4 linked regions of the Homo sapiens genome follow. The protein of the gene in region 1 interacts with the protein of each later gene in a pairwise test. Each region holds a gene or a part of one and is shown on either strand. Other genes may lie near its edges. The genes, in order: ZIC1, SPATS1, KRTAP3-2 and ZNF620.

Region 1 (4,904 bases):
TAAGATATTTATAATTCCACTGCAGATGTAAGAATTTATTGACGTTCCGGGTTTTTAAGCTTGCAAAGTGCTAATCCTGGGCTGCTGGCTTTTTGTTTTATTTTTTTTCTATTTGTTTAGTTTTTGAAAAACGGCCGCGGTATTTTTTTCTAATTAGACCCCTCTCATTCTACTTTGGCACCAGGGGAGAAGCCCTTCAAGTGCGAGTTTGAGGGCTGTGACCGGCGCTTCGCTAACAGCAGCGACCGCAAGAAGCACATGCACGTGCACACGAGCGACAAGCCCTATCTTTGCAAGATGTGCGACAAGTCCTACACGCATCCCAGTTCGCTGCGCAAACACATGAAGGTAATCGCCGCACTCTCGTCGCCCCCTTTGAGGCAGGAGCTCTCTTGGCTCTCGGCTTGGGGTCGGGCGGCGAGTGGCAGACAGGCGGTGGCGGGAGCCAGAGGAAGCGGGAAGGCAAAGGTTCCACTCAGTGGAACTGGGCAGAGAAGGTAGGGCGGGACCTGGAAAAGGGGATGGGAGTGTCCAAGGCCGTTTTAAATTTTTGGTTTAATAATAAAAGTTAAAAGAGGCGAGTATGAGCAAAGGCCGCCACTGAATTTGGCCCAGAGCTAGGGCTTTTGCAGGGGGTTGACGCTGCGGAAACTGCTGCCCTTGCAGCTGCCAGTGAGACGCAAGAATTGGACTCCTGCGCCCAGGCCTGAGCTCTGGCTCACCTAAACATGGACAAGCAAAGTTCAGGGAAAGAAAGTGCAGTCTCTGGCCTCATATCCAGTCTCCCTCTTCCCAGACCTATTTTTCTTTTGTGAGTCTTGGGGACCCTGACTTTCCCAGGAGCACGGTTTCTGCAGGCCTGTGCAGAGAAACCAAGCCCAAAGTCCCGCTGATCGGGCCTCACCTGTGTTCAGGGGGCTCCAAGGGGTCCAGGAGGAAGGGCACTCGCGGCCTTCGCCTCTCTAGTCGGCCGCCGCACTGGCTCTTTATGTCCGTAAAAACGCGACTTTATTCCTGCAGGTCCACGAATCCTCCTCGCAGGGCTCGCAGCCTTCGCCGGCCGCCAGCTCTGGCTACGAATCCTCCACGCCTCCCACCATCGTGTCTCCCTCCACAGACAACCCGACCACAAGCTCCTTATCGCCCTCCTCCTCCGCAGTCCACCACACAGCCGGCCACAGTGCGCTCTCTTCCAATTTTAACGAATGGTACGTTTAAAATCAGAAACAAAACATCGAACAAAACCCTATTTAAGAGACTGATCACACACGTATACACAACATTACTGAAAGAACCCTGCGAATCAAAACAACCCCCACACAGACCCCGCAATCCTTTTTTAAAAAATCTGCCAATAGACCCAGGACGAGTAAGAGAGGAAGCATCAACCTTTTAAAAATTTCCTTTCGCTTTCATTATTTTTCTTTTTTTGGCAAAGGCTTGGTACCCAAGGTGCGGTAGGGGGTCGAGGGGGAGGAGGCCACCTGACCAAATGCCGCCAACCCCGAGGGCCAGTTTCTTGTCGAATTGGTACGGGCTCTCTGGGGCTTCGGCTTCTTTTTTTCTTTGTTTTCTTGTAAATACAGAATTATTAGCTTAAAACTGTACTGTTGAATTCTGTAAATAGTTATATCTCGGTTGGAGCGGGTGGGTGGGATTGTGGCGTTGTGGTCTTTGCATTGGGGGAGGGGGGAGGGACCGGATGGGCGGGGGGAGGGGGAGGGGGAGGGGTGGGCGGCCGAAAGCCAACTGTTTGTACTGAATGGCAAGAATGTTCTAGTAAATGTGTACCAAAATGTGAATTACTTTGTACGATTACAGTCTCCACGTCGACCTAACCCAATATTATTGGTATTAATGTGCTTTTTTTGTATAAAGTGCAAACATTTCGTCCCAAAGTCTAAGTACTTTAGTGCAGTAAAATGTTGTTTCATGTCCTGTCAAGAATTCGTATAGTACGAGCCTGGATCTGCGTGTCAAACTGTTCCATTTGTTTATGTAAAGTGATATTAAAAAAGATATAAACTATAACTGTCCGTTACTTTTGGCAAAAGATACAACCACATAATGTATATAATTCCTAGTTTCCATATTTATCCGCATGTAAAGGGCCGGTTTATCCATGTTACAGCTCTTCAATATTTATGGCTAGAAGAACTCGTATGTACACTTTAGTTTCCAGAACTGTTTGGTAACCTTTCGTACCTTATTAAAGATTCTTAAATCTCCGTGATTGTGGTAGGAATTTCTTCTTCACCCACCAGCAACCTGCTGCCTCTTCTGCCAGTCTTAAAGGGTCTCCAGAAAAGCTCTCCAGTCTCCCTTGCCTTCCCTTTCTGTCACTGCAGGTCGTATAAACGTGATAAATGAATGCTACCCTGCTGGCTCTCCGAGAGAGTGTAATTAGTATTTATATCAAAATTTATGAAACAAATTTTCGGCCGCAGTATAATTTAAATGACCTTTGCAGATGTAGAATAACAACCATAAAAATAACAGGAATAGATTGCACAGGCGACATCAATATTAATGTAGACGAATTGTCAGAAGCTCAGGGGCTCGCTCTGCAACATTGCAAATGAACTTGCAGCCGAGGGTTCCGCTGCCCCCTAGATTAAATTCCCCGGGCTGAAACTGAGTTGCAGATTTACAATATCATATTTTAAATTGCTGTCTTCAATTAAACCATTTATGACCATAACTAATTTTCAGGATGTCGATGCATGCTTTTCCAGGCCTTCCTTCTTTGTACAAAAGTAAATGTCCATAAAGCGTTTCACTTATATTCTTCAAACATGATGCTAATTTAAATTAATTACTTCCTATGATATGTTATTATTCCTATGATTTTGCCACTGTTATTAGTTCTCTCAAAAATACATCTAGGGAAGAGGATTATTTTAAGTAATTTGATTATCTTTCTATCTCTTTTATTTATTTCTCATTTACTTAAGAAATTCGTTCCATTGGTTGGCATTGATACAGTAAATTTGTAAATGAGGAGACAATATAAAAAATCTAAATTACTTGTGCTTAATGACTGTAGCAGAATGCCTTTTCTCTAAATCAGATTGTCTTTCTTGCAGTTTAGTTTGATAGATTTGCAAGCTATGCTGCTTCCATGAAGTTAGCTGCGCTGGTAGGAACGCAGGCTTCTTTGTCTCTGGTTGTAGCTTGCATGATCGCCCCATTAGGCAGACAACGTAGCCGGAGATCACAAATCAGGCCCTTGGCTGTAGTTGCTAGTGTGTGGAGGTGCAGAGCAGGTGGCAGAAACTGACCTCACTGGGCAAGGGTGGCCATGGACCTGATTCTTTAATGCACTCTATGTGTTCAGGAAGCCACAGGCCATATTTGACTCTGAGAAAGAAAACAAGAGGAAAAACCCCACAAAGTATAACAACCCCTTAAGATACATCTATTTTAAAGTGAAATTAATTTTTCAGTTTATACCATTGGCCAATTACAAGATAAAAATGTTCAATTTCTTTAAGAATCCTTTGTTGACTTGTCTTTTCATCTCTTGCTATTTATATTTGTCACTGTTTCAACAAAGTCTTATTTGCTGAGGAAGGACTTTGCTGCACTTACTGTACCACATCAAACACTGGGGAGGGTGGTGTTTAACTTTTTAAAAAATGTTATTCTGATTATAACAATAATATTGGCTTTTTTCATGAAAAGAGCGCCACCTTGCAAGGTTTAGTGAGATTTATGGAAGTTGAATACCTAAGCAGGAATTGCTGCTAGCTCCAAAAATTTGCGAAGCAAAAGCTAGCCCCAATTGGTTTGGAAGTTTGAAACTGATTAACAGATTTGCATTTGAAGTGACTCCAGACATTAGGTCCAGACATTAGTTAAAAATAGAAAGAGGAATAAAGACATCTCTTCTCTCTAGAAAAGATAACACCACAATTAATAATCCTTCCCACTTTCATTGAGATCAGCTTGTCTGATAACCTGATATGAGTGTGATAATGATAAACATGATAATAGTGGTACTTTTGTAATTTTGCTGGTGCATTTAAGAAGATAGTAAATGATGAGTTCATCTTTTCTTCGAACATTCCTATTCCTAGATGTAGTTTACCTCAAATTGGGAATTATAACTGTCTAATTTTTGTTGTGTACCTGATGCCCCTTTTGCTTTAATACCACAGTGTAACAATTAAATATCACACTATGACATATGATTTAAGTAGGATATTTTAAAGATAAATTTTAGGGGTAAATGTTTACTTCAAAATGACTCCATATTTCAAATATCTGTTTAGACTGTGAAGGCCAAATAATTTTTAAGAAAACATTTGAAGAGTAGTGTGTTTGCATTTGTGAATAATCTTACTCACAGCAAGTAAACGTAATAAAAGCCAACATTTAAGCCAACCCTCCTGTGCATTCTCTTTTCCAACACCTATCACAAAGAAAAAGTCATTAATGATGTAGGTGGCCTAAAATAATCCTTCGAAGTTAAATGTAGTCTATTATTTTGCTGGTACCTTTAATATCTGCTTCTTGAGATGTATTCTTCATACTTTTTTTCATGGGCTATTAGGTTTTGAAATACATAAATGTGAACAGCAAAATATATTGTTAGACTCTCTTTAGCAGGAGCTGAAGATGCTGCAAATAGCTGTTTCCTGTGTGTAGCTTTAGATTCTGACTTAGGTAGAATGCTGTCCTGGTTCATTTTGCAATTGCATTGTATTCTGAATACTATCAAATGATTAGAACAGCTAACAAGTTATTAAAAAGTTATGTTGTGTCAACAGAAAATGCCTGAGTACAAGCAATCATATTTGAGAAATGAAGAGAAATGAGTTGTGGTATGTGTGTGTGTGCATTTGTAGAGCAAGCATATAAATATACAAGCACCATTTATATGGGGGCTAAGTAATTTCAAA
Region 2 (7,049 bases), on another chromosome or scaffold:
AATCCACCTGTAAAATAAGAACAAAACCTGATAACCAGAACCAGATAAAGTTGCCAAGTCTTCTCTAGTTAGTGACAGAGAGAGCCAGAATTAGAATAAAAATTAGGGAGGTAAGATTACTTATTGAAAAGGTCCCTATAATGTGCAGTACGTTTACAGGGATTATTTATTCAACTCAGCAGACATCCTTTGAGTACCGTTTATGCACTTAATCTACAGGAGAAATGGGAAGGTGGTGAGGTAATGGAGGCAGGGATCACAAAGATGAATAAGATATGATATTTGTTTCAAGGCTCATTGTCTATTGTGGGGAGAGACCACTAGATGAGTAATCATAAAACAATTGAAAGCAAATATGGTACAATGTGTACATAGAGGAAAGACATGGGGGAAGTTGAGGACATGTTGCAGAGGAGGTGGTACTTGATCTGGGTCCTAGATGAGGCATTGCAGTTAATGTATCTTCCAAGGACAAAGTATTATGGGATGCATCTATATTAGGTCACTTAATATTTATTTTTAGATTTCCACATGTGCTTGAAAAGAAAGTGTATTCCACTTAATCAGGATGGAAAGTTAGATACATATACAGAAGATTGACTTTATTGGTTATATTGTTTAGCCCCTATATTTCCTTACTTTTGTTCACTTGGCCTAGTTTGGACTGAGAGTTAGTGTGAGAGTTAAGGTGTCTGAATATTAGCATTTCGACTATTTTTGTTGTTAATTGTGTCTTTTAGCATTATGAAAGTATCTTTATTTTTCTCATTTAATACTTTTTGTCCTAAAGTATACCTAGCCAGTTATTAAGGTTCTAATTCTCTATTTTATTTGCATCTGACCTTTGCCCATTCTTTTTGCCCATTCTTTTGCTTTTGAAGCACTTTGCTTTTAGGGTAGAATTGGATTCTGCTCGTGAGCCAGCTTGAAAATATTTTCTTTAATTCAGGTGAATTAGGCCACTTGCATTTATTGATTAGACTGATATATTTGATTTCAGTTCTGTTACATTATTTGTTACATTTATTAGGTGTACTGTATTACATTTAGTGTGAGTCTTTCAGTGTTTGATTGTTTCAACAAAGGCTGAAAAATGCTTTCTTTTGATATTTAGAAATGCTCGTGTTTTTGTTCTAGTAGTTCTTTACGCTAGTATCTTTATACATTGCTCTTAGTCCTGCTTTTCTTATTTGGGTTTCTACTATTTGGCTTGTTGGCTTTAAGTGATAACTTTGACTTTCACCAATTACCTATGTGGTAACCGTCCTCTTCGTTCTTGCAGGGACTTCCCTACCCCCAGCAGTTTTATCAGGGCATTTTGCCAATTGTGGTATATTTCTCCCCTAAAGCACAAGAATTCTAGCTTCCAAAAGATGAAAACATTTTGCATCTGCCTGCTCCAACTCATCCCAGAGTCACACTTCCTACTACCTATTGGACCACATGCAGCCCAGAAATGTCCTTTCAGGTCTCAGTGGCTCTGGGAAGACTCTGGGTATCTGCATTAGCCAAGGTCCCAGCAGAAAACAGAAAGCACACTCAGCTGGGATTCTGAAGACAGCTTAAGGAAAGGGACTATTTATGGGTGTGTGGGCAGGGTTGGGGGAACCCACATGGGAGGGTGAAGCACCCAGAGGCTCATGACAGTGGGAAGCGTTACTACTCTTGGGTCTGAGCAGCAAGAAGAGGGATCACAGTTTGCAGAACAGTAAGCGCTGGAGCTCCGGGAGAAGGGCTGCCCAACAGGAGCTGTGGCACTGCCAGAATTGGGGTGCCTTGGGAGATAGGACATCAGGGGAGGAACTAGGTAAGAAATGCCCTAATTTCTGTCCACCTTCTGATCTCCTATCGGTGCCATCAGCCAAGCCCAGCTCAAAGGTGGAAGCACGGGTGGGGATGGTGGCTCATGCCTGTAATCTCAGCACTTTGGGAGGCCAAGGTGGGAGGATCATTTGGAGTCAGGAGTTCAAGACCAGCCTGACCAACATGGTAAAGCCCCATCTCTACTAAAAATACAAAAATTAGCTGGGCGTGGTGTCATGTGCCTGTAGTCCCAGCTACTTGGGAGGCTGAAGCAGGAGAGTCACCTGAACCCGGGAGGCGGAGGTTGCAGTGAGCAGAGATCGCACTCCAGCCTGGGCGACAGAGTGAGACTCTGTCTCAAAAAACAAACAAAAAAATATGGGCTGGGTATAGTGGCTCACAACTGTAATCCCAGCACTTTGGGAGGCCGAGGCAGGTGGATCACCTTAGGTCGGAAATTCGATACCAGCTTGACCAACAAGGTGAAACCCTGTCTCTACTAAAAATACAAAAATTAGCCAGATGTGGTGGCATGTGCCTATAGTCCCAGCTACTCGGGAGGCTGAGGCAGGAGAATTGCTTGAATCTGCGAGGCGGAGGTTGCAGTGAGCTGAGATTGTGCCACTGCATTCCAGCCTGGGCGATGGAGTGAGACTTTGTTTCAAAAAAAAAAAATGTGGAAGCACAGAGGAGCCCAGGTGATACTAGCTGCAAGGTCAGCCTCTTGGCAGAGAAGGGCTGAACAAGAGGGTTTGAGGCAGGAGCAAACGGTGAACAACTAACATATTTTATTTTGAAGCTGGTCTCCTAAATTGGAGGTCTTTTTACTTTTGGAGCACATAATTTCTTATCCGCTGTTGGTGTTTGTAAATTTTGCATCAAACTACAACTCAGGGTGTTGTCTTCTTCCCACAGCTTGCCTTTCTGGGTGAAGGAGAAGGCCAACAGTTTGAAAAATGAGATACAAGAGGTTGAGGAGCTTGACAACTGGCAGCCAGCAGTGCCCTTAATGCACATGCTACACCTTTCTGGTGGGTTAAAGAAACTTCAAAGAATAGTGTAAAAACTGGAGGAGTCCGCCGGGTATGGTGGCTCACTCCTGTAATCCCAGCACTTTGGGAGGCCGAGGCGGGCAGATCACAAGGTCAGGAGTTCAAGACAAGCCTGACCAACATGGTGAAACCCCGTCTCTACTAAAAATACAAAAATTAGCTGGGTGTGGTGGCGCGTGCCTGTAATCCCAGCTACTCAGGAGGCTGAGGCAGGAGAATCACTTGAACCTGGGAGGTGGAGGTTGCAGTGAGCTGAGATTGTGCCACTTGCACTCCAGCCTGGGCAACAGAGCGAAACTTTGCCTCAAACACAAACAAACAAACAAAACAAAACTGGAGGAGTCCAGAGAACAGGATTTTGAGAGGCTTCACAGTGGAAAGGAGGGCAGGCAAAGTATCTCCTGGAGTGGATGTGTCTTCTGTCCCGAGGTGGTCTCATGGGCAGATGTCATAGCCAAGCATTGGGGGTCGAGTGTATTGATTGAGAATTGTTAGTTTTGTAATGGAAGAAAACCTGTAACTCCATGCCTCTATCCACAGGTGCTTTGGACTTTCCAAGACAATCCTGAGCATAAACAGGCCCACAAAACATGTGCTGACTGCACTCTGGCGACCCTTTTCCAGTTGATGTTTTTTGTCATGTGACTGTTCTAAATCCAGTGTTTGACCCTTATGAGGAAGTGTTGTGCTTTGCTTTTTTAAAACTTTATATTTTGAAAACTTTCACATTTACATAAAAGTTGCAAGAATTGTACAACAAACACCTGCATATCCTTCACATAGATTCTATCATTGTTAATATTTGTTCAAACTTTCTCTCTCTCACAATATTACAGTTACCATTTTGCTGAACTCTTTGAGAGTGAGTGGCAGATATTGTAACCCTTTACACCTGTATACCTACATACCTCAGCATGTATCTTCTAAGGTCAAGGATGTTGTCTAACAACCACAACACAAATACCAAACTCACAGAATTTAACACTGATAAAATATTATTAACATTTAGTCCACATTCAATTTTAGTCAATTATATTTAGTTTTCTAAGGATGCCCTCAAATCAATCATAAAATACAGACATGATGTGAGTGTCTTAGCCTGTTCAGGCTGCTATAACAAAACGCCATAAACAGAATGGCTTATAAACAATAGGAATTCATTTCTTACAGTTCTGGAGGCTGGGAAGTCCAAGCGCAGGGTGCTGGCAGGTTCAGTGTCTGCTGAGGGCCAGCCTTCTGGCTCATAGATAGTACCTTCTTGCTGTGTCCTCATATGATAGAAAGGGTGAGCTAGTCCTCTGGGGTCTCTTTTACAAGGGCACTAATCTCATTCATGAGGGCTCTGGTCTCATGACCTAATCGCCTCCCAATGGCCTTACCTCCTAATACCATCACCTTGGGGATTAGGTTTCGACATATGCATTTTGGGGTGGGGAGGACAAACATTTAGACCATAGCAGTGAACTTTCATTGCTTTTGGTAAAACTTTTCATTTTATTAATACCTTTTGGAATGTTTCTCTAATGTTAACTTGGTACATGTCAGAAAAACATGAAGGCTGGATCTATACCAGGTAAGTAATACTATTGCCCTGTAGCTGCATTCCCCAGTTTAGTATTGCCTATCTACAATAGCCAAGCAGGGTGAGAGCTCAGTGACCACCAGTCATGAGTTTTAGGGCCTCCTGTCAATCAGACAAGAAGCAAACATTTGGAGGAAAAGGTGAAAACAAAAGCTGCCTCACAGGCTTTGACACAGTCAAACTAGTGACTCACGGCATTTTTACAGCCAATCTCTTTCTCCACTAGGGAACCCCCTTGGCTGGCTAATGAAGGCTGCAGATCTAGTATCTCCAAAACCTTAAAGTGGAAAGAGATTGGGGTCCATGCTGAGACTCCACATGTCTATGACATGAGCATGATTTATTTCCCAAAATGTTTGTTGTCTCCAGTCACAGCCAAAGTGAATGAAGCAGGTTTAGAACACGATACATTTAGCCAGGTGTGGTGGCTCATGCCTGTAATCCCAGCACTTTTGGAGGCCGAGGCAGGCGAATCACTTGAGGTCAGGAGTTCGAGACCAGCCTGGTCAACATGGCGAAACCTGTCTCTACTAAAATCACAAAAATTAGCCAGGCAAGATGGTGGGCACCTGTAATCCCTGGTACTCGGGAGGCTGAGGCAGGAGAATCTCTTGAACCCAGGAGGCAGAGGTTGCAGTGAGCCAAGACCATGCCATTGCACTCCAGCCTGGGCGACAAGAGCGAAACTCCATCCCAAAAACAAAGAAGCAAACAAAAACCACAATGCATTCATGGCACCTTCATATGTGCCTCTAGACTAACTGGCAGAGAGCATGGTGCCGACTGCCAGCTGCTGTGCCTGACCACTCCTTGGGTTAACATCAGCATACATCCGTGCTAATCCTCTGGCCCCTGGGTCACAGGCCCACCCCTGCTCCCAACATAATAATTTAAAAAAACACCAAATAATTTTTAAAAAGACAGAGGCTGCCAAGAGATTTTCCAGGACACATTAACTTCTGAAAAGATAATAATTTTTTGTGCCTCTATTACTTAAATGTAAAAAAGTCTTCTTTCCCCTAGTCAAAAACAATGCCCCACCCCTAAAAAAAAAAGTCAACTGCAACCACCAGGTGGGTTAGTAATGGAGGACACAATATAGAACAAAAAAAGATTCTGCAGAGATTTCCTGGTGAGATTATCTAGGTGGCACAGGAAACTGCTCTCAGAAGGTTCCCTGGTGTTTTGGAAGGAGGGAGTCCTACACCATAAATATATTAAGGAAAACAACCGGCTGGGCGTGGTGGCTCACGCCTGTAATCCCAGCACTTTGGGAGGCCGAGGCAGGCGGATCACGAGGTCAGGAGATCGAGACCATCCTGGCTAACATGGAGAAACCCTGTCTCTATTAAAAACACAAAAAAATTAGCCAGGCATGGTGGTGGGCACCTATAGTCCCAGGACTGTACTATACTCGGGAGGCTGAGGCAGGAGAATGGTGTCAACCTGGGAGGCGGAGCTTGCAGTGACCCAAGATTGTGCCACTGCACTCCAGCCTGGGCAACAGAGTGAGACTCTGTCTCAAAAAAAAAAAAAAAAAAAAAAAAAAAAGAAAGAAAGAAAGAAAGAAAAACAACCAAAATACAGTTTTAGAAGGTTTGGAGTAGTCTCTAGGTTTCAAAGAGGTCTATATAATTCCTAGGTGCTGCTCTAAGTAGATATGATTTGATTCCTTTTTCTTTTAATCCAGGCCGCAAAAACCATGAGTAAAAAAAAAAAACACAAAAAAACAAAAAAACCCTACACAACTGTTAGATGATTGAACTTCTGGAGTTGCAGAGCTACATTTCATCCCCTGAAAATCAGGGCAGTTTTCGCTGGATCTGGTGTTCTCTGTGGGTACATCTCGATGCCCAGGCCTTATTCCACGGCACCTCAATAGCTGTCAGGTAGAGTTCCACTGCCAACTTTGGACAGCATGAGTATGTCTACGTGTGTGGGGAGACAAAGGCATAGAGAAAGGCCACATGGGAAAAATATGTGCATATCATAGCTGTTCCAGCTTTTGCTTCTTTCCAGCTAGAAAGAGGTTGAACCTGTTAGATGTAAAGATCCCCTTCACCTCACTGTAGGGTCTTTGGTAAATAAAAACATGTGGGTGCAGAGGTGTGTGTGTGTTCAATTCTTACTTTCAATAACTGAAGTTCAATAGAAATAAACTATATGTGAAACTTTACAAGTAAATTTCTTAGTGTGCAATTTTATATTGCACAGAGGTATTCTAATTTTGGATCCTGGGATAAATGAAAAATGACCTCTGTGGACATGAAGAAACATTGTATTATTCAGCTAGTGGCACCAACGTTCGAATTAGTGATCTCTGAACTCCAAGTTACCAAAATGTTAAGATAGTAGGATATTAAACTTCTAAAATTCCACAAGGAATTTAGGAATATACTGTAGGATTCCACTAATTGTCCACATTTCTAATACGAGGCACTCAGTTTGGTTAGTTTTGTTTTGTTCTTAGGCATTTTGGTCTCAAAATCTAGGCAGGTAAACACATTGTTTACAGGACTTGACTTGGTGAAGTATTTTAGAGTTGGAGTCCTTCAAGATCATGTCTCTGTCCTAAAGAGGCTTTTCTTTCCTGGCTGGGAAATCAGGAGAGA
Region 3 (6,168 bases), on another chromosome or scaffold:
AGAGGACAACCTTGTAGAAGAAAGCCTTCCTTTGCCACAAAACATTGTCCTGGTCCACTGTCACTATGTCTTGCTGTGATTCCTATCTCCAAGGATGCTGCAGCGTCCCCACTGGCCTGGCCACCACTATCTGCCCCTCTGACATAAGCTGTCAATGTGAAGTCTGCCTACCCAGCACCTGTCCTCATGAGATCAGCCTCCTTCAGCCCACCTGCTGTGAACCTGGCCCCTGCCTGGCTGCATGCCTGACTCCTATGTGCCATCCTGTTGACTGCTCAACAAATGCCACCCAGCTCCAACCCTGAGCGGGCTCTCTGTCACCACCTGCATCCAGAGTGTGAACCACCTTGCTGCTAGCCAAAGAGCTTGCCCACATTACCCTGAGGACCTTCAGTAGTCATTAAGCGCTGCTCAGCAAATGGCCTTTAATGAGGCCATTTGGAAGAAAATATAGCACTGTGCCTTCAGTTTTACAGAAGTTTTCTTTTCCTGTTTTGAACAATGATTTCAAATGAGAAATGGGAAAAAAAATGCTACCATGGATCCCCTTACTTCAAAACTAAATAAACACCACTACTCCCCAAACCACATACTGCCTCAACATTTAATGCTATAATTACCCAACGACTCTTGACACATGCATCATGAACTTAAAAATACATCCAGCAGAATTACACTTTCTGATGACATCAACATAAATTTCATAGCCAAAAAGAGGCCTCACAGGCATACGTAGATACCTGAAGAAAACTGTGAGGATAGTGAAATGCATTAGGCTCTAAGCTTAGAATCGTTTTAAATGCCAAGGTCAGCATCTACCTTTGATTTTTATTTTTTCCCTGCCTCTAAATAAACTCACGTGTCCTTAAAGAGGCAGTGAAGCTAGCAATTTGAGATCAACATGCTCACAGAAAGGACCTCAAAGATTGAGCCAAGCCCATTTTTTTCGCTGTCTCATTTAGGTAAATCTTTGAATTTAAAAATGTTGGCCAGGCATGGTGGCTCACGCCTCTCTAATCCCAGCACTTTGGGAGGCTGAGGCGGGCGGATCACCTGAGGTCCGGAGTTCAAGACCAGCCTGACCAACATGGTGAAAGCCCGTCTCTACTAAAAATACAAAATTAGCCGGGCATGGTAGAGCATGAATGTAATCCCATCTATTCCTCAGGCTGAGGCAGGAGAATGGCTTGAACCCGGGAGGCAGAGGTTACTGTGAGCCAAGATCGTGCCATTGCACTCCAGCCTGGGCAACAAGAGCAAAACTCCATCTCAAAAAAAAAAAAAAGTTTTGACAACTGTAAAGCAATTCACACAAAAAATGAATCACTCTCTTTATATAAAGTGTTACTGTTATAAAAGGCCATTATAAAAATAAATAAATACCTTTTTAATTCTAATCTGAAATGTAATCCAATTCAACAAATATTTATCAAATGCCTACCCTGTTTCAGGCATTGTCCTAGGTGCTTGAAAAAGACAAATAAAACTAACATACGATTACCACTTCCAAGAACCTTGCATTGGAGTGAGGAAAACAAATTTAAGTGACAAACTACAAAATATAGCAGAAAGAAATGAGGTTGAAAGGGAAGAATAGGCAGCCCATTTTGTGAGAGCAGAGAAAAGGATGCAAACATCTAGAAGAATCACCTAGAGTTTCTTTATGAAGGGGATGTTTGGCTGAATCTTGAGGGATCAACAGGATTTGGAAACTAGAGAATTGGGAAAGGTCACTTTAAGCTAAAGAAACAGTATGAACGAGGTCACAGAGGGTAAAGTACCTAGGAGACTCCCGCCTTCACTTTATGTAATGTGCTGTATGATTAACATATGCGTGACTCACATAGTTATCATTTTTGTGATGAGAACACTTAATCCATTCTCTCAGCGTTTTTCAAAAATGCAATATATGGTTATTCACTATAGTCACCATGTTGTACAGTAGATCTCCTGAATCTATATAATATTTCAAAATCGATTTTAAAAGAGAAGTCAGAGAGAACACAGAGAATGGGAGAGGGTCTTCTTCATATATTCTACTTGCCAAGCCACTGGCTTCTAGATGAGAGAGACTGGTAAGTCAAGAGTAAGTAAACATTAAACATTTCCTTGACGATTTCAATACTAGTTCATTAACTTTGAATTTTATAATATACTGGGAAAGCCACTTGAATTTGCTTATCTGTTCTTCAGTGGTAAAGTGCAGGTATTGAGGCAGGAGACTAGCAAAGGGAATTAAAACTTGGATAAAGGGTGGAGTGAATAAAAGCAGAGACCAGAAGCAAGGTGAAGGGGCAGGTAAGCAAGAAGCAAGATAAGAAGCAGAAGTTAGACCAGGCGCGGTGGCTCATGCTGTAATCCTGGCATTTTGGGAGGCCGAAGCAGGTGGATCACTTGAGATCAGGAGTTCAAGACCAGCCTGGCCAACATGGAGAAACACCCCTCTCTACAAAAAATACAAAACTTAGCTGGGTGTGGTGGCGGGCACCTGTAATCCCAGCTGCTACTTGGGAGTCTGAGGTAGGAGAATCACTTGATCCCAGAAAGTAGAGGCTGCAGTGAGCAGAGAATGCCACTGCACTCCAGCCAAAACAAAAAGTAAGATAGAGAAGAAAGCAAGGCCCCCATGGCCGGCAAGATAAGGACCAAACCAGTAAGGGGCAACTCTTCATGGATAAGCATGTGCATTAAAGAGAAAACGTATCCTTAACATGACCTTGTATGAAAATCAGCTCATTCAGGCTTATGCATATGGACTGCATATCATGTATGTACTTAAAATTATGGGCTGGAGGTGGTGCGCAAGCACACAGGGGCCAAAGTAACTAAGCAACACACCTGTCAATCAAAGAGGCAAACACTGGCTAGAGATTAGGCAGCCTTGGGAAGGGACACACACACACACATACACACACACACACACACACAAAGACGCAAACTGCACCAAGCTGGGGGCTGATCTCATCTCACAGAGGCTGGTTTGCTCTCCCCCTCTTAGAGTGTAATACTGTGCTTAATACACTTTTGTTTCTTTGTTTTGCTGTGGGTGTCTCGTCCAATTCTTTGGGACACCAAAAGCCTGGAACTGCATGGCACCATCTGGTAACAGTATGATGTTCGACACCCTTGGCATTTGTTGTAAATTCCTGCTAATAAAAATGATTTGAAGCTGTTTTCTGTTTTTTTGTTTTTAACTTTTAAGTTCAGGGGTACCTGTGCAGGTTTGTTACATAGGTAAGCTGGTGTCATGGGGGTTTGTTGTACAGATTATCTCATCACCCACGTATTAAGCCTAGTACCTACCAGTTATTTTTCCTGATCCTGTCCCTCCTCCCACCTTCCACCCTCTGATAGGTTCTAGCATCTGTTATTCCCCTCTATGTGTCCATGCGTTCTCATCATTTAGCTACCACTTATAAGTGAGAACATGCAGTATTCGGTTTTCTGTTTCTGCATTAGTTACTAAAGATAATAGCCTCCAGCTCCATCCATGTTTCTTCAAAGGATAGGAGCTCCTTATTTTTTATGGCTGCATAGTATTCTATGGCATATATGTACCACATATTTTTGTTGTTAAAGAAAAAGATAAACTGGTTGTTTTAACGTATAACGTATAAGGCTTACCTACCAATGACATTTGATATTTTCCACTGATTTTAGCCAGCTTTCTTCTCTTTTAAGTAGATCGTACTGGTTTTTGGTAATGTCCCCTCAGAAACAACCTACCCGGAATCTTTGCTTTCTGTTAAGTCAACAAATTGCCACATAACGAGTATGTAATTTAAATTATACAATATTATCTGAAAGGATTTGTGCTGATCATGGACAGGTGTAGGAAGATGTTGGAATCTAGAATATTACACATTTGATATTATCTAGTTCAATCTCTGGCTGACTTAAGTAAATAATGTTGTTTAAGGCATACCTCAAAGGAATTTCAATCTAGTTCAAGATCCAAGGTATGAAAACAAATAAACATGCAAAGTAGGGAGTAAGTCAGTGAAAAAGTGATTTTTATGAATGCCATAGTTCTAAATTGCATTGAGTCAGATTCCCTGCCAAAATCCATGATTGTTCTGTGACTCTTGTGGTTTCTCCTTTTAATTCTTATTTCATCTTATTTTAAAGTATGTACACCATTCATGTGAAAATGAATCAAGGCTGAGGTGGTTTTCTTTTAGTGGTATATTCAACAAAGAATGGCCACTGTGTGGATCCTTCCTTCCAATGAATTTATACTTTGATTCACCACAAGATTGGCATAACTTTGAGAATAGAGACTATTTTAGAAAAAAAAAATCCATAGAATAATACAACATTGAGAAATTCACTACAGATTTAATAAAAATAATAAAAAGGAGTTTCTTCATCCTGTACCATTCTACCACTTTGCTTGCTCAATAGAACCTGAATTATAATATCACTAAATAATGCAAACATGTCCGAGATGCCTGTAGTCACATGAAACATTCATCTGTAAATAGCCATATTCTTGTTGACTTTATTGAGTTGAAAATGGTCCAGTTCATCATTTGAGTTACTCATTCTGAAATTAGTCATTAGAAATCACATTATCCATAGTATTTTAAATTAAGAGGGAAAAACAAGAAGAGTTTGGCCTCCAAAATTACAGCTGAATTGTCACTTGGATTGATTACCCATAAAAGTCATATAAGGTTTGGCATGCCAGAAACCTGTGAAGACAAAATGTGATGATCTTGTGACAAAAATGACAAGTCAATGAGTCAAAAATATGATTAACTTAATAAGAGCGGGAACTCTTAATGGACATGTAAATGACAAACTGATTAGAGAATCTCAGTGAAAAAGGGTGCCATAAACAAAACAGGAAGGCTTCCAGTTGGACCAATGCCCACTTGGGAGGGTATATAAGAGCCCTAACAAAAGAGGAGACATTTGTACCTCAGAATCCTCATCTAAGAAACTGAAAGCTAACCAGACGCCCATTGCCATGGATTGCTGTGCCTCTCGCAGCTGCAGTGTCCCCACTGGGCCTGCCACCACCATCTGCTCCTCCGACAAATCCTGCCGCTGTGGAGTCTGCCTGCCCAGCACCTGCCCACACACAGTTTGGTTACTGGAGCCCATCTGCTGTGACAACTGTCCCCCACCCTGCCACATTCCTCAGCCCTGCGTGCCCACCTGCTTCCTGCTCAACTCCTGCCAGCCAACTCCGGGCCTGGAGACCCTCAACCTCACCACCTTCACTCAGCCCTGCTGTGAGCCCTGCCTCCCAAGAGGCTGCTGATGGATGGCTACTTTGCTCAGTGCCCGACAACGAAGAATCCAGAAGCTGTCCCTTCAGTATTCACTTGCCTCAGTAGTTTGCCAGATGTTAAGGTAGACCAGATGACCCAGATATGAAGAACTTACCTTTGGTTTTAATGGGGGAAAAAAAGAAAAGTATTTTTTATGGTTATTTAGCTGAAAAACCATTTGGTTCCTGTGGGCAGGTGAATGAGTTTTATTAGCAAAATACTGTTTCAATCTTTAAGACCTCAGATTACATGTTCTTGATCATATTGCTTCCTGGCTCTTGTTTCTTGTACTGGGTATTTTCATAGAAGAAAATTTCTTGGTGGGTTTTCCAATAAACTATATTTCTCTGGCAAGATGTGTCATTTGTTTATGTTAGTTTTGGGTATATTTCTTCCATTTTAAAAAGGTAAAAACAGGATGATTATTTTAATCTTTTAAAGAAGACTCTATTGGCAGAATGACTAACATTCTTGCTACTACTAACATGGCTTGCTAACTTTTAACAGGTTCTCTTTCATGTTTGCCTTCTCTTCTCTCTTCTTCCTCAGACAAGTGCAATTTTGGTGTGAACCAACATTTATTTATCTACTCTTCACCAGTAAATTATTGATTTAGTCCTTAAAACAGCACTAATGGATAAGAAAAAATGAAGTTTTAAGCGTTATTCAACATTCTGAAAGTCATAAAGTTAATTACTTAGAAAATCAGAATTCAGCCTCTTGTATGTCTGACTCTAAAGCCCAATTTTTCCTACCACATCATAGAACCTTCAATACTAATGAAACCAGAAGCTTAATGAGCACAGTTATGAAATAAACCCAAAATATGCAAGAGAAATAAAACATGTAAGATTCTTTAACAAAATCCACATCGGATTATAATAGAAAA
Region 4 (3,247 bases), about 110 Mb from region 1:
AAAATAAAAACATAATAAAAATTTAAAACGTTTAATCTATACCAATCTACCTAATGACCTAGCCATTCCACTCCTGTATCAAGATAAATGAAAGCATATATTCTTACAAAGATGTGGACACAAATGTCCATAGCAGCTTTATTTGTAATAGCCAAAAACTGAAAACAACCCAAATGGCCATCAACAGGTCAATGAATAAACAAATTATGGCATATCCATACAGTGGAATACTACTCAGCAATAAAAAGGAATGAACTATTGATATATATGCAACAACATGGGTGAATCTCAAAGTAATTATGCTGAGTGAAAGACACCAGACCAAAAAATAAAGGAAAATTAATCCAAGTGACAGAAAGCAAACCAGTGGTTGCCTGTGAAGGGCCAAGAGGAAGGGATTATGGAGGGGTACAAGCAAAGTTTTGGGGTGGTGGCTGATTATTATCTTGAACTGTGATAATTGTTTCACTAGTATATTGATAAGTCAAAACTTACCAATAGGATTATAATAATAGGTAAAAATTTTTTTTTTTTTTTTTTTGAGACGGAGTCTCAATCTGTCACCCAGACTGGAGTGCAGTGGCATGATCTTGGCTCACTGCAACCTCTGCCTCCCTGGGCTCCTGCCTCAGCCTCCCAAGTAGCTGGGACTACAGGCACATGTCACCCCACGCCCAGCTAATTTTTTGTACTTTTAGTAGAGACAGGGTTTCAGTGTGTTAGCAGGATGGTCTTGATCTCCTGACCTTGTGATCTGCCCACCTCAGCCTCCCAAAGTGCTGGGATTACAGGCATGAGCCACTGTGCCCGGCCAATAATAGGTAATACTTTTATTATATGTAGTCACTGTTTGAAACACTTCTACAAATAATGCATTTAATCCCCAACACAAACCTATGAGGTAGATTAACTGTCATCCTCATTTTACAGATAAGGAAACTAGTGCAGTTTTTGTAACTTAACCAAGGACAAACACCTGGACTCAAACCAAAGTCTGCCTGGCTCTGTATTATTAATCACTACTCTCTGCTTCCTGCAAAATCAAGCTGGCTGCCAGAGGGGATGCTAAAACCTAACACATTTACATCTTCCCTCATTTCCACAGGTAACAGCAATAATGGTAGGTTCTTCCATGATCATAAAAAATAACTAGATGGAATTGCAAGAAAATGCTGCCTGCTTTGAGGTCACTTGAAACAGCAATGAGAATAAATTTAAGACAAATGGTGCCTTGCACCTGACTCAAAGAGTATATACATCCTGACTTTTGCAAAGGCACAGAGTACAACTGTCTAGTGAAGACAAACTGAAGAATAAGTAGGGTGGGTGGACACTGAACCTGAGATAGGTCTCTGGAAGTTTGCACCCTACTAGGAATGTCTTCCAAGATGCATTTGGCTCCACATGGACAGGGCCCGTTTTTGAATTTAGGAGACTTCTGACGTACGGACTGCAATAGGGAATCCATATATCTGTCTTTTTATTTACTGGTTTACTCCTTGTGTAGTGTTGCACATATGAGAAAGGATGCATGGGAGATAAAGATTTCAGATTTAAAGGGTCTGAAATGCCTTTATTCTATACTTATACTTTGGAGTATAGAATTGCAGGGGAAAACATTTTCCATGAGAAGTCTGAAGGCATACACATTGTCATCTGACTTTGAAGGTTGCTCTTGAAAAATCTAATGCCATTTTCATTTTTTACTGTTTTTGAGACAAAGTCTCACTCTGTCGCCCAGGCTGGAGTGCAGTGGTGCGATCTCAGCTCACTGCAACCTCTGCCTCAGGGATTCAAGTGATTCTCCTGCCTCAGCCTCTCTAGTAGCTGGGATTACAGGCATGCGCCACCATGCCTGGCTAATTTTTGTGTTTTTTTTTTTCAGGAGAGACGGGGTTTCACCATATTGGGCGGGCTGGTCTCGAACTCCTGACCTCATGATCCACCCGCCTCAGCCTCCCAAAGTGCTGGGATTACAGGCACGAGCCACCGCGCCTGGCCCCGCTTTCATTTCTGATCTTTTGTTTTCTCTCTCTAGAAACTTTTTAGGGTCTCATTTTTTCTCCATGATCCTCTTATTCAAACTTGGTGTTTTCATAATTCACAGCAATTTTCCTTAATGTAGGTTTCCCTTGAATCCATCCTGCTGGGCACCCAGCATGTCCTTTAAATCTGGAAACTTACATTTCCTTTTATGTTTCTAAGTTTGTTTGTTTGTTTTTTGGTCTTCTCTAACCATAAAGAGACTTCATGTTGGGGAAACAGGTTCAAAAAACTTAAAGAAGAGTTCATGATGAAAGCCAAGTGTCTAACCAGGAAGGACAGCGAGGACACTGATAAAAAGCATGAAAATAAAGAGAAAAAAGGAGAGGCACAGTGGGCCTAACTATGGATAGCCCTATGCTTGGACAGGTGTCTTCTGAGTGTGTAGTTTCTGATGCAGAATGAATCTTCCACACCAGCTGAAGGTTTTACCACACACTTTACACTCATAAGGTTTCTCGCCAGTGTGAACTCGCTGGTGCTGAATCAGGGTTATTTTCTGATTGAATGCCTTCCCACACTCCTTACATTCAAAGGGCTTCTCCCCAGTGTGAATTCGCTGATGCTGAGTCAAGGCTGTGTTGGAGCTTAATCGTTTTCCACACTCTTTACATTCATAAGGTTTCTCCCCAGTGTGCATTCGCTGATGGACAGTGAAACTTGAGCTGCAACTGAAAGTTTTCCAACATTCGTTACATTCATAGAGCTTCTCCCCAGTGTGGAACCTCTGGTGCTGGAGGAAGACAGAGCTGCTACTGAAGGCCTTGCCGCACTCCTTACATTCATAGGGCTTTTCTCCAGTGTGGATTCTCTGATGCTGAATCAAGGCTGTGTCTGAACTTAAACCTTTTCCACATTCTTTACATTTAAATGGTTTCTTTCCAGTGTGAATTATCTGATGCCGAATAAGTAATGAGTTATATCTGAAGTATTTTCCACATTCTTTGCATTCAAAAGACTTTTCACCAGTGTGACATTTCTCATGTCGGTGGAAGTCTGCCATTTGAATGAAATATCTGCCACATTGTCCACATTCATAAGATATCTGACCACTAGGATTTGTCTGATTTGTAGTGAGTTGTGTGCTGACGCTAATATTTTTTCCTAATTTCTCAAACTTCTCTCCATTCTTGACCTCATAGGCCTCATGGTGCCTGGCTGAGGTATCTGTGAAATGTCTCCTCTTTGACTTTGTCTTAATTAT

Evidence for each region.
Region 2: the proteins of ZIC1 (region 1) and SPATS1 interact in binary tests that used the Homo sapiens proteins (3 or more experiments, as listed by UniProt).
Region 3: the proteins of ZIC1 (region 1) and KRTAP3-2 interact in binary tests that used the Homo sapiens proteins (3 or more experiments, as listed by UniProt).
Region 4: the proteins of ZIC1 (region 1) and ZNF620 interact in binary tests that used the Homo sapiens proteins (3 or more experiments, as listed by UniProt).

The regions. Positions count from the first base shown.
Region 1 is NC_000003.12:147,412,334-147,417,237, forward strand, and holds the end of ZIC1 (zinc finger protein ZIC 1), read left to right. Parts: intron 1-184; coding exon 185-348; intron 349-1,020; coding exon 1,021-1,218; 3' UTR 1,219-4,386; downstream 4,387-4,904. UniProt on the Homo sapiens protein: Acts as a transcriptional activator. Involved in neurogenesis. Plays important roles in the early stage of organogenesis of the CNS, as well as during dorsal spinal cord development and maturation of the cerebellum.
Region 2 is NC_000006.12:44,373,640-44,380,688, forward strand, and holds the end of SPATS1 (spermatogenesis-associated serine-rich protein 1), read left to right. Parts: intron 1-2,718; coding exon 2,719-2,834; intron 2,835-3,395; coding exon 3,396-3,424; 3' UTR 3,425-6,540; downstream 6,541-7,049.
Region 3 is NC_000017.11:40,998,658-41,004,825, reverse strand, and holds KRTAP3-2 (keratin-associated protein 3-2), read left to right. Parts: upstream 1-4,919; 5' UTR 4,920-4,972; coding exon 4,973-5,269; 3' UTR 5,270-5,633; downstream 5,634-6,168.
Region 4 is NC_000003.12:40,516,015-40,519,261, reverse strand, and holds the end of ZNF620 (zinc finger protein 620), read right to left. Parts: coding exon 2,399-3,247; 3' UTR 526-2,398; downstream 1-525. UniProt on the Homo sapiens protein: May be involved in transcriptional regulation.